Linked DNA regions of Homo sapiens. The protein of the gene in region 2 interacts with the protein of the main gene of each other region in a biochemical or structural test. Each region holds a gene or a part of one and is shown on either strand. Other genes may lie near its edges. The genes, in order: PPP1R14A, PRKCZ and PAWR.

Region 1 (3,747 bases), on a different chromosome or scaffold from region 2:
CTCAGGTGATCCGCCCGCCTCGGCCTCCCAAAGTGCTGGGATTACAGGCGTGAGCCACCGTGCCCGGTGCTTACACAGTTTTATGTCTGGGTGTAGTTATAAATTCTGTTGGGTTTTGTTTGTTTTTGAGACACGGTCTCGCTCTGTTGCCCAGGCTGGAGTGCAGTGGTGCAATCTTGGCTCACTGTGACCTTGGCCTCTCAGGCTCAAGCAATCCTCCCACCTCAGCCTCCTGAGGAGCTGAGATTACAAGTGCGTGCATGCCACCACGCCCGGCTAAGTTTTAAGATTTTTGGTAGAGACAGGTTTTCCCCATGTTGCCCAGGCTGGTGTTGAACTCCTGACGTCAAGCAATCCTCCTGCCCCGGCCTCACAAAATGCGTGAGCCACTGTGCTGGGCCAATTTCTGTTGTTTTATGTCTTTGAGTGGCTGCGGATCAGCGCTTGTGCTTGAAGGTGGTCAGTTTTTTCTTTAGGAGATAAGGAAGGGCCGTAACTTGAGTCATTTTGTGTTCCAGTGGGGTTGTGCTGTGTCTGCCTACGGCTGTGGCCCATGCCGCTGTGTCTGCGGGTGGCTGTGACTGTAGCATATGTTGAACTGTAGGTGACCCCCCCCCAGCCCCCGCTTGTGTCCTTGTGGGTTTGTGCATGGCTGTTACTTCTGGGCTGTGTCCGTGAGTGGCTATAGCTTCCTTCACTGTGCACATCTGTGTCTGCTTTTGCTTCCTTTGCCGTGGGTCTCTGTGTGGCTGTATCTCCCCTGTCACCATGTCTGTGTTTGGCTTTATGACACCCCCCTTCCCCCACTCTTTCTCCAGACGTGGCGGTTTCAGCTCAACTTAGCCTCCTCCCTCCTCATGCTAAACCCCTGGCCCTCCACAGGCGTTTGGACACATCTCTGGAGACCCAAGTCTTTGTGTGTTGCTCTCGGTGTGTCCACAAGCACAATGCCATAGAGCACGGATGGCCAGGCCAATGAGTGCCCGGCCCTGGGGCGCTCGTCCTCTTGTGCAGACCAGGCTGGCCGTGCACCAGCGAGTGTGCACCGAGACCCCAAGGGCGTGGGGTCTCCGCGCCCGGGCTCTATCTGTCCCCGACCACCCCCGAGCCCTCCCCGGGCTCACCATGCCGCGGTACAGCTCCTCCAGGCGCCCGTCGATCCACTTCTCCACGTCCAGCCGCCGCTGCAGCTCCCGCCGGTCATACTTGACGGTGACGCGCGCGTGCCGCTTCTGCAGCCCCCCGGGACTGCCCCCTGGCCCGCGGGCCCGCGATGGAGACTGCAGCTTGCTCAGCACGCGCTTGCCCAGCCGCTGAGCTGCCATCGCGCTGCTGGACCCAGCCTGGCCCCGCGCTGTGCGCCTTCGCCTCGCGCCCCGGGTGCTTCTTACGGGCCAGGGCGGGGCTAGCCGGGGGCGGGGGCTCGGGCTCGCCGGGAGGTCTGCCCCACCCCGGCCGCCTCAGGCCTCAGTTTCCCCGTCTGCAGTGCGAGAGTAGGCCGCTGCGTCGGCTTGAGGCACGCAGTCGTGCGAAGTTGAGGTATGGGCGGGGACCCAGAGTCCCGGGCGGGTCCCTGCATCGGGGGCTCCCGGGCCGGGATCCTGTGGGGCGGGGGCCTGGGACAGACACTCGGGACCCGGCCTGTCTGCGCCCTCTGGCGGTGGCGGGGTGGGGGGCTGTTGGTGCGGGAGCGCCTGCGCCGCTGTCGCTGTAGAAGGTCGAGCGGTCACTTGTTCCTTCGTTCATTCATTCACTCATCCATCCATTTGTTTGTTCACTCATTCCGTTCAACGAATTTTTTTTTTTTTGAGTCGATGTCTCTCTTTGTCGCCCAGGCTGGAGTACAATGGCGCGATCTCGGCTCACCGCAACGTCCGCCTCCCAGGTTCAAGCGATTCTCCTGCCTCAGCCTCCGAAGTAGCTGGGATTACAGGGATGCACCACAACACCCGGCTAATTTTTGTATTTTTAGTAGAGACGGGATTTCGCCATGTTGGCCAGGCTGGCCTCGAACTCCTGACCTCAAGTGATCTGCCTGCCTCCGCCTCCCAAAGTGCTGGGATTACAGGCGTGAGCCACCGCCACTGGCCCGGTTCAACGAATATCTATTAAGTATCCACTCTATACCAGACACTGCTTTACGCTCCAGGGATAGAGCAGGGAACAAAACAGACAAAACCAGTCCCACGCAGTTGACAGTTGTAGCCGGGATACATGAGAAACACAGTAAGTACGGTATTATACAGTTTATTATCATATAAGTGCTTTGGAGAAATATAAAGCAGAGAAGGAGAAATGGAGTGAGGGTAAGGTTGCAATTTTAGCGAGGGTGGCCAGGGAAGTCCCTTACTTCAAAACAGTCTTCTCACTTCTAATTATAAGCAGCAATAATTATACTCTAAAATTTAAATGTGGCTGGGCGCAGTGGCTCACTCCTGTAATCCCAGAACTTTGGGAGGCCAAGGAGGGTGGATCACGAGGTCAGGAGTTCAAGACCAGCCTGGCCAACATGGTGAAACTCCATCTCTACTAAAAATACAAAAATTAGCTGGGCCTGGTGGCACATGCCTGTAATCCCAGCTACTCGGAAGGCTGAGGCAGGAGAATCGCTTGAACCCGGGAGGTGGAGGTTGCAGTGAGCCAAGATAGCACCATTGCACTCCAGCCTGGGCAACAAGAGCGAGACTCTGTCTCAAAATAAATAAATAAATAAAATAATAATAAATAATTTTTTTAAAAAGGCCAGGCATGGTGGCTCATGCCTGTAATCCCAGCACTTTGAGAGGCCGAGGTGGGCAGATCACGAGGTCTGGAATTCAAGACCAGCCAGGCCAACATGATGAAACCCCATCTTTACTAAAAATACAAAAAAAAAAAAAAAAAAGCCAGGCGTAGTGGTGTGCACCTGTAATTGCAGCTACTGGGGAGGCTGAGGCAGGAAAATTGCTTGAACCCAGGAGGCAGAGATTGCGGTGAGCCAAGATCGCACCACTGCACTCCAGCCTGGGTGACAGAGCAAGACTCCATCTCAAAAAAAAAAAAAAAAATTGTAGAGACAGGGTCTCCCTATGTTGCCTAGGCTGTTCTCCAATTCCTGGGCTCAAGCGATCCTCCCACCTCGGCCTCCCAAGGTGCTGGGATTATAGGCATGAGCCACCTCACTCCACCAGCCAGCCATAATGTAAAACTTTTGAGTTTCAAAGAACATCATCAAGAAAGTGAAGAGACAACCCATGGAATGGGAGGAAAAAAATTGCAGTCATGAAACTCATAAGGTGCTGGGACGAGCCACCACACCTGGCCAAACTATACACTTTAAAAAGGTGAGTTGGGCCAGGCACAGTGACTCACGCCTGTAATCCCAGCACTTTGGGAGGGCAAGGCGGATGGATCATCGGAGGTCAAGAGTTAGAGACCAGCCTGGCCAACATGGTGAAACCCCATCTCCACTAAAAATACAAAAATTAGCTGGGCATGGGGGCACATGCCTATAATCCCAACTACTCAGGAGGCTGAGGCAGGAGAATCGCTTGAACCTGGGAGGGGGATGTTGCAGTGAGCTGAGATCATGCCATTGCACTCCATCCTGGGCAACAAAAGTGAAACTCCATCTCTAAATAAATAAAGGGTGAGTTGTATGGTATGTGAGTTATATCTCAATAAGACTGTGTTTTTTTTTTTTTTTTTTTTTTTTTTTGAGGCAGAATCTCGCTCTGTTGGCCAGGCTGGAGTGCACTGGCATGATCT
Region 2 (3,747 bases):
AAGACGTCAGCTGAGAGGCTCATTAGGAGGATGCCTGGGGCTGGGTGAGTGTTGGTTGGGAGCTCAGGGGGCCCATCTGAGCTGGGGATGCAAAGCGGGCCAAAGGCTGAGGCTGGGGCTCCACAGTTTTAAAAGCTGCAGACCAGGAGGGCGAGGGATGGGAGATTTAGGGAGCTGGAACCCGGGGCCAGGGATGTGTGAGCCTTCCCAGGAGGGGTCTGATACCAAAGGCCAAGTTAAGAAAATGTCTGAGGCCGGGCACAGTGGCTCACGCCTGTAATCCCAGCACTTTGGGAAGCCAAGGCAGGTGGATCACCTGAGGTCAGGAGTTCGAGACCAGCCTGGCCAATATGGAAAAACCCCGTCTCTACTAAAAATACAAAAATCAGCTGGGCATGGTGGTGGACACCTGTAATCCCAGCTACTTGGGAGACTGAGGCAGGAGAATGGTTTGAACCCAGGAGGCAGAAGTTGCAGTGAGCCGACATCATGCCATTGCACTCAGCCTGGGCAGCAAGAGCGAAACTCCATCTCAAAAAAAAGAAAAAGAAAGAAAAAAAGAGAAAACGTCTGAGAACCGACGGCTTGTATTTAAAACGTGTGAGTGGGTGGTGGCAGGAGAGGTAGACAGGGAGCAGGGCCGGCTTGGCGGAAGCTTTGCTGTAGAGAGGGGCAGAGATGGCTCGGTGGGTGGAGGGAGGGGCAAACGGTGTTTAAGAAGAAAAAACGACAGCTTCTGCGTAGGAGAGGGGCCTCCTGTCCATCTCCAGGGAGAACATGGGTTCTGTGGCCACAGGTCTCCCCAGGGCCTGGCATCAAGGAGGCGCCAGGCACGACCTGCGGGATGAAAGCACGTGGCTGAAGTCCTGGTGGCTGTGTCTGGGTGAGGGGTGTGAGGGCGTGGCCTGAGCAGGTCCACTCTCAGGGGAGAGGGGCCGAGGCCAGGAACTGGGTCTGGGTGTCCACCTGGTGCCTGGGTGAGGTCCTGCAGGCAGCAGGTCTGGGCTTCAGTGGATGCAGCCAGTAAGGGATGGGCTGATCAGGGAAAACCGTATTTTCAGGGGAGGAGCCCAGGAGGCAGGGAGCTGGGCGGCGGTGGAGGGGCCTGGAGGGCGATTGTCCAGATCAAGCCCCTCGAGTAAGGCCCGAGAGGCTGTGGCTTCAGAAATGAAGGTCATGGGCGACTCGGGCCAATGCCGCGTCCTTGACCTGGGCGAAGTGAGCGGTTGCACTCACGAGTGTGGACGGCCCTTCCCTACAGGGGACCTTGGATTCGCTGGGGGCGGAGTGGGGGCTGGGGCCCAGAGAACCCGAGTCCGGACGCTCCCGTCCGTGACCCTGGCCGGGTTCTCCGCTCCTCGCAGCTTCAGTCCGCAAGTGTGAGATGTCAGGGGACCCCTGGACGGCGGGGCCCTCGGGCTGGCAGCGCGCGCCGCAGGAGTTTCGATTCGGAGGGTCTGGGCGAAGGCCGAGAACTCGCGTTTCCAGCGAGTTCCCGGGGGCGCCGCTCCGTCCCAGAGGCCGGGGCCCCTCCGGTTGCCGGGCAGAGCCGCGCCGCGCGCGGTCCCATTGGCGCAGGTGCGCCGCGCCCCGCCCAACAGGTAGCCCCGCCCGACAGGTAGCCCCGCCCGCGCCTCGCCATTGGGCCGCGGCCGGGTGTCCCCCGAGGATTGGCCCAGGTGGCGGCCCCGCCTCGCCCTCATTGGCCGCAGGTGCCACCGCCCGCCCCGGGACCGCCCGCCCCGCGGATTGGCCGCTGGCTCCACCTCGGTCCGCCATGTTCGGACACCGCCCCCCGCCCCCGCCGGACGGTCCCGCCCCGCGCGCCCCCCGCTCCCGCCCCGCGCGCCGCCGGAGTTCCGCGGAGTTGACCGGGTCGGCGCCGTCGGTCCTGAGCGCTGCCTTCCGCGTTCCGCCGCGGCCCCACCTGGAGCCCCCGCCCCGCGCCATGGCCGGAGCTCCCGGGGCGCAGCGCTGACGGCGGCGGGGGGAGCGCGCCATGCCCAGCAGGACCGGCCCCAAGATGGAAGGGAGCGGCGGCCGCGTCCGCCTCAAGGCGCATTACGGGGGGTGAGCGGCGGAGAGGGCGGGGAGCGGCGCGGGTGAGGCAGGGAGGGCGGGGAGGGCTCAGCCGTCGGGGCTCCTGCGCGAGAGGGAGAGAGGGAAGGGGCGGCGAGGTCGCTGCGGGCCCGGGGCTGTCGCGGGAGGTCCTCGGTCCCCGCCCGTGAGCGTCACCCGCGGACACGTCGTGGACAGCGCGGGCTCCTTCCCCGGGACCGGGTTTCCCTGGGGTCGGCCCCGCGCCGCGAGCTCCTCGGCCCGGTCATTGTGGTAGACGTTTTCGCTGGAAAGTTGGGCGGGGACGTTCCGGCCGCAAACCTGTAAGGACTGAAAGTTTTCATCAAGTTGTGAAAACTCCTGGCGGGTTTCTTAAAATCAGCGTTTCCTAAACGTTCTCCACGTTTACCCGGTCGGGGGTCTCGCTTTAGCCAAAATCCGGAGACCCGGGGCGCGGGCGCTGTGGCTCCAATGCAGCCCCCGGCAGGGCTCGGGGCGGTCGGGCGGGGACAGGGGTTTCTGGAGGAGACGGTGGGGCCGAGACTGACCCTGGGGTTTGCGTCGCACCCGCCCCCCGGAGGCCCTTGCCTGGCTGTGGGAGGGGGCGCGGTCAGGTGCTGGAGCGGAGGGGTCCTGGACTCTTGGCCGCCGCCTCGGGGCAGCGCTGCTGGGGGTGGCGGGGGCTGCACCAGGTGGCCGGGCTCACAGGCACAGCGGAGGGGTCGCTGCCCCCCGAAGTGTGGGCGGTGGGGAGGGGAGGACCCGTGGGTTTGTTCTTCCACCTGTGCGCGTCTCCAGGAGCCCCGAACTGGGACCTCCGCTCCCGCGAGGGTGGCTGCTGCTGCAGAGAGGGAGGGGAGCAGAATGCGGGCTCCGGACTTGCACTGGCTGGTCCTTGGGATCTCGAAAAGCTGCTCCTGCCCCGGTGCGTCCTCAGCTACAGCGTGGGCAACCTGAGCCCCAGAGGCAGGGACGGCCGGCAGGGTTAGGCGGGTGACAACTTCCCCGGGCCACGTCCTCTCAGGACAGTGCCCCGGGGGTCTCTATGGTGCCCTGCGAGTCTGAGCGGGTTCAGCTTCCTGCGAACCTTGTCTTGGGGTCTCGGGTCAGCCATCTGGGGCTGCTTGGCCCCGGGTTTGTTGAGGAGGCTCAATTGTCTCTTCTTTGGGAAGGTTGGGGCCTCTGCAGCTCCCCTGTGGCAAGCACCTGGAACCTTCGGGGTGCAGTGGCCCGGGTTTGGTGCCAGAACCAGAAGAAAGGGATTTCTGGGGGACTGACCGTCCAGCCCTACCTGAAGAGGTAGGGCAGCCATGTCTTTTGGCCTGGAGGTCAGCAGGTTAAAACTTGGTATGGTTGACGTTCTGGCTATTGGACTTGTCCAGGGACCTGGGCTTCCTGTCTCCTTGCCATTCTGGAGCCACCACACTGGGCAACAGGTGATGGTGCGGAGCTCAGGGGAGTCCTGCGAGAGGGAGGTCCACACCCGAGGGGCTGCAGGGGCCCAGACCCTCCTGCATTCCGGCGTCCAATTCCTGGGACCAAGGCTCGGAGGCAATGCCACTGGAGTTCTGGGCCGCCCCGTCCTCCCTCTGCCTTGCTTTGGCCCCTGGGAGCACTTTGGTGGTGGGGCGGGTGTAATTCCACCCGGTGACTCTGGTTTCCCAGGCTGGAGAGACCAGGCTCCCACCC
Region 3 (3,747 bases), on a different chromosome or scaffold from region 2:
ACAATCCCTATTGAGTGGAATTTGGAAATACCTGCCAAATTGACATATTCATTTACCTTGTGAGCCAGCAATCCTAATACTAAGAATCTATCCAGGAAATCCATTGCATATATACAGAAACTATATATATAAGCCTTTCTAACACATTTTTCTTAGAGCGTGTAAAAAACCCAAATGTTCATCAATAAAGCTCTGATTAAAATATGGTAGGTACATCTATTTAATAAAATTATTATGCAGCTGAAGAAAGGAATGAGGAGAATCCACTTCTCTTAAGTATGGCAGATACAGGAATTCTCTTATTTCTCATGATTTCCGCCAACTTCTTCCTCCAGATGTATTTATCCCAGTTAGAAAAGATTGCTTAAGAATTTCTAGGATGCTTGTTATCAAAAGAACTGCACTGGTTGCTAGCAGAATTTTGGAGAGAAGTTGTGATTCATCAAGTAATCCTATACTAAAAGCTGCCTGGAACGTTAGATACATACTGTATCCACAGGGATACTATGTGTGATGAATAGGTTCCCAGTTCAGTGGATAGCAGTGTTGCCATGGGAAAGAGCATTCAGAATTTTAACTTCAGGTATCACAGTTCACCTTCCAGTTCATCTCCAAGATGATTTGTCTCATCTTGGTAACTCATTCATTGTTTTATGAAACATTTACCGAGTGTTTTGTTTCTTCCTTTCTTTTTTCTTTTAATATACTGGTAAGGGAGTCTAGTTGAGGGGGCAGGAGGAGGGAAAGTTAGTGTTGTGGGGCTGGGTCTCAGAAAATGAAAACAAAGACAAATAAAATAGCATCCCAGTGCTCTGGGAGTGCGTGGCTACCTGCCTCAACTTTTGCTTTCTGTTAATATTAATCTATGATAATTTAAGAATTCCAACTTTAAGCTAATGATGTTGGAGCCTAGGTGAGGGATTTTTGAGTCCATATGCTGGAGAATAAGTGATGATTGCTTTCACACAGTAGAAGACTAGAGATGAGACCATTCTTTATTCTTTTCCAGATCTCATACTTTTGCTTCTCCTACTGTTCATTAAATGATTGACCTCTCCTCCCCCTTTTAAAGCAACTCCTTGATTTAAAATGCCTTTTATGCTATTTTATTCTTTCTGTTCTAGGACCTCTATCAGGTATTTTTGTTATTGTAGTTTTATACATTTTAACATTAACTAGAGTGTTTGGTCATACCTCTTTTTTAAAAAAGTAATTTTTTTGATATCTTATGTATTTTTTCTTCCAGATGATGCACCACTACTTTCCAAATAAATTTCTTCATGATTTTGATTGGAATTTTAATTTATGTGTTAAGAGACTGTTGACACCTTCACAATACTAGATTTTTCTTAAGAGCAGGTTTTAATTTGTATTCTTCAGTAAAGTCTTATAGCTTTTTTCATGCACGTACTGTTTTTTAGTTTTTTAATGGTTGTTACTAAAAATTTTGTAACTGGCTATTGATGTTACTTTGGGAAATTTTTTGCTTATTTACTGAAAAAAATCTTAACTCATAATTCTAAAATGTTTTTGTTTTTTACAAAATCATTTCCTCTGATGGTAATTTTGCCTCCTTTCTAATGTTAAAATCGCCTATTCTTCTTACCTAGTTCTATCAACTAGCACTTTCAGAATGATGTTAACAATTATGTTAATAGTGGACATCAATGTCTTGAGTCTGATTTTACTTTAAATTTTGCTGGTATGTTGTCATTAAACAAGATATTGTCTAGTGATTTGAGAAAGTTTTTGAAAGTCCTGAGAGAGATTTTTTTTTTCTAATAAGGACTAATTTCTTAACACTTTGGTGTCCCATACCAGATTTCTTTCACTGACTCTGTTTCCACCTATGATATATCATTTTTCATAGGATACAATTGCCTATGTCATTTAACTAGTCACTTAACTAGTCTTTTCACTTTTGGTCTTGTTCCTGTTCTCTGCATTGCTATTTCCAGGTTCTTCCCAAAAAGAATTTTGATCATTCCTTATCCCAAGGAACTGTATAGCATTGTAACATCATTCCAAGCTATGGAGTGAGAAGTCTAAACTTCTTGGGTTATCTATTATTTATGTTCCCTCTATGCCTTTCGAGTCCTCACTTTTGTCAAAAACTGTAATGGCTTTGAGATCATACCCCACTTGCTGGCTAACACGTTAGCTTGTGTATGCTGGCAAAAGATACTAGTCTCCTGGGTTAGTTAGAGTCAAGAACAGTTTAGACTCAGCAATAACAGTAGCTACAGTATCATAATTTTCTTGTGCTGTTTCCCCAAGCCCCACTCTTGGCAGGTTGATATGACAAGGGCCAGGTGACACCAAATCTCAACCTGCATGCTCCTTTCATTTGCCCTTTCCATTTCTGTCCTCAGACTTCTCTGTATCATCCTAATGTTGTAAGACTCCATCTCAGCTAGAAACCATCATTCTGAGCAAACTATCACAAGGACAGAAAACCAATCACTGCATATTCTCACTCGTAGGTGGGAATTGAACAATGAGAACACTTGGACACAGGGTGAGGAACATCACACTCTGGGACCTGTCGTGGGGTTGGGGGAGAGGGGAGGGATAGCGTTAGGAGATACACCTAATGTAAATGACGAGTTAACGGGTGCAGCACACCAACATGGCACATGTATACATGTGTAACAAACCTGCACATTGTGCACATGTACCCTACAACTTAAAGTATAATAATAATAAAAAATAATAAAAAACACTCCATCTCAGACAGATGCTTTCTTCCATGTCCTCCATTGTAGACCTTGTCTTTATCAAGCTTGGTACCCCTTTCAGTATGTTCCTCCTATCTCCAAATATTCCAGTGCACCTTCTTGGTTTGCACAATGGCTTCAGTGTTTTCTTCTCTCTGCACAACTTTTTTTTTTTGTCCAATTCCTATTGTCTTCACTGCCATACTGTTATACTTTGCTGTGATCAGTTCCTTAGTGTCTCTACAAAGAGGTGTGTGGTTTTTTTTGTTTTTGTTTTTGTTTGTTTATTTGTTTTTGTCTGGAGGGGGTGTGAGTTCTCATGCAGAAACCTTTAGGGCAGTGTATTGGTTAGGAATGTATTCAGTTGCAAGGAACGGATAACCCAGCCCATGATGTGTATAATGGATAGAGATTTGTTTCTATTTTGTTTTTCTTATGTAGAAAGTGTAGAGTTAGATAATTTCTAGTGTTGCTTCTGTTTTTTAGCAGCCTTCTCTTGTAAGCTTTTCCAATATGCTGTTACATGTGTAATTCTCTTTTTTTATATATCTGCAATTCCAAATTGTAGCCATTCTTTAAATTACAAGATTTTTTATAGTCTTTTCTAACTCTCCAGGTAAAAATACTCTTCCTTTATATGCTCATAGAATATAAAGCTAGAAACTGGGCCTTTATCACTAAGTTATCTATCTATCTATATATATGTATTATCTTTCCTACTAGATTATAAATTCCATTTCTTTAATGCATCCTTTGTTACCTTCTGCAGAATGCCTTGTTTAAGGTAGACGTAGTTTACTTATTGAATGAATGATAAAGAATGAATAAACCTTTCCTTTAAGAAAACCCTGTCACTGATGTTTGGAGTTTAGGGAAAAGATTTGTTGGCAGTGGTGTGGATATGGAAGTACAAGTTTTAAGCAGATAATTTATAGGAATTAAATGTACATATTGCTGAAAGAAAAATACTTTTATTATGCAAACTAATTTCTGAATGCACAAATATTTCTTTAATACTATCAATATATTT

What was found.
Region 1: the proteins of PRKCZ (region 2) and PPP1R14A form a complex in vitro, tested with the Homo sapiens proteins (one study listed by BioGRID).
Region 3: the proteins of PRKCZ (region 2) and PAWR form a complex in vitro, tested with the Homo sapiens proteins (one study listed by BioGRID).

The regions. Positions count from the first base shown.
Region 1 is NC_000019.10:38,255,015-38,258,761, forward strand, and holds the start of PPP1R14A (protein phosphatase 1 regulatory subunit 14A), read right to left. Parts: upstream 1,361-3,747; 5' UTR 1,326-1,360; coding exon 1,125-1,325; intron 1-1,124. UniProt on the Homo sapiens protein: Inhibitor of PPP1CA. Has over 1000-fold higher inhibitory activity when phosphorylated, creating a molecular switch for regulating the phosphorylation status of PPP1CA substrates and smooth muscle contraction.
Region 2 is NC_000001.11:2,048,632-2,052,378, forward strand, and holds the start of PRKCZ (protein kinase C zeta type), read left to right. Parts: upstream 1-1,779; 5' UTR 1,780-1,999; coding exon 2,000-2,070; intron 2,071-2,124; exon of another isoform or gene 2,125-2,381; intron 2,382-3,747. UniProt on the Homo sapiens protein: Calcium- and diacylglycerol-independent serine/threonine-protein kinase that functions in phosphatidylinositol 3-kinase (PI3K) pathway and mitogen-activated protein (MAP) kinase cascade, and is involved in NF-kappa-B activation, mitogenic signaling, cell proliferation, cell polarity, inflammatory response and maintenance of long-term potentiation (LTP).
Region 3 is NC_000012.12:79,621,272-79,625,018, reverse strand, and holds part of PAWR (PRKC apoptosis WT1 regulator protein), read left to right. Parts: intron 1-3,747. UniProt on the Homo sapiens protein: Pro-apoptotic protein capable of selectively inducing apoptosis in cancer cells, sensitizing the cells to diverse apoptotic stimuli and causing regression of tumors in animal models.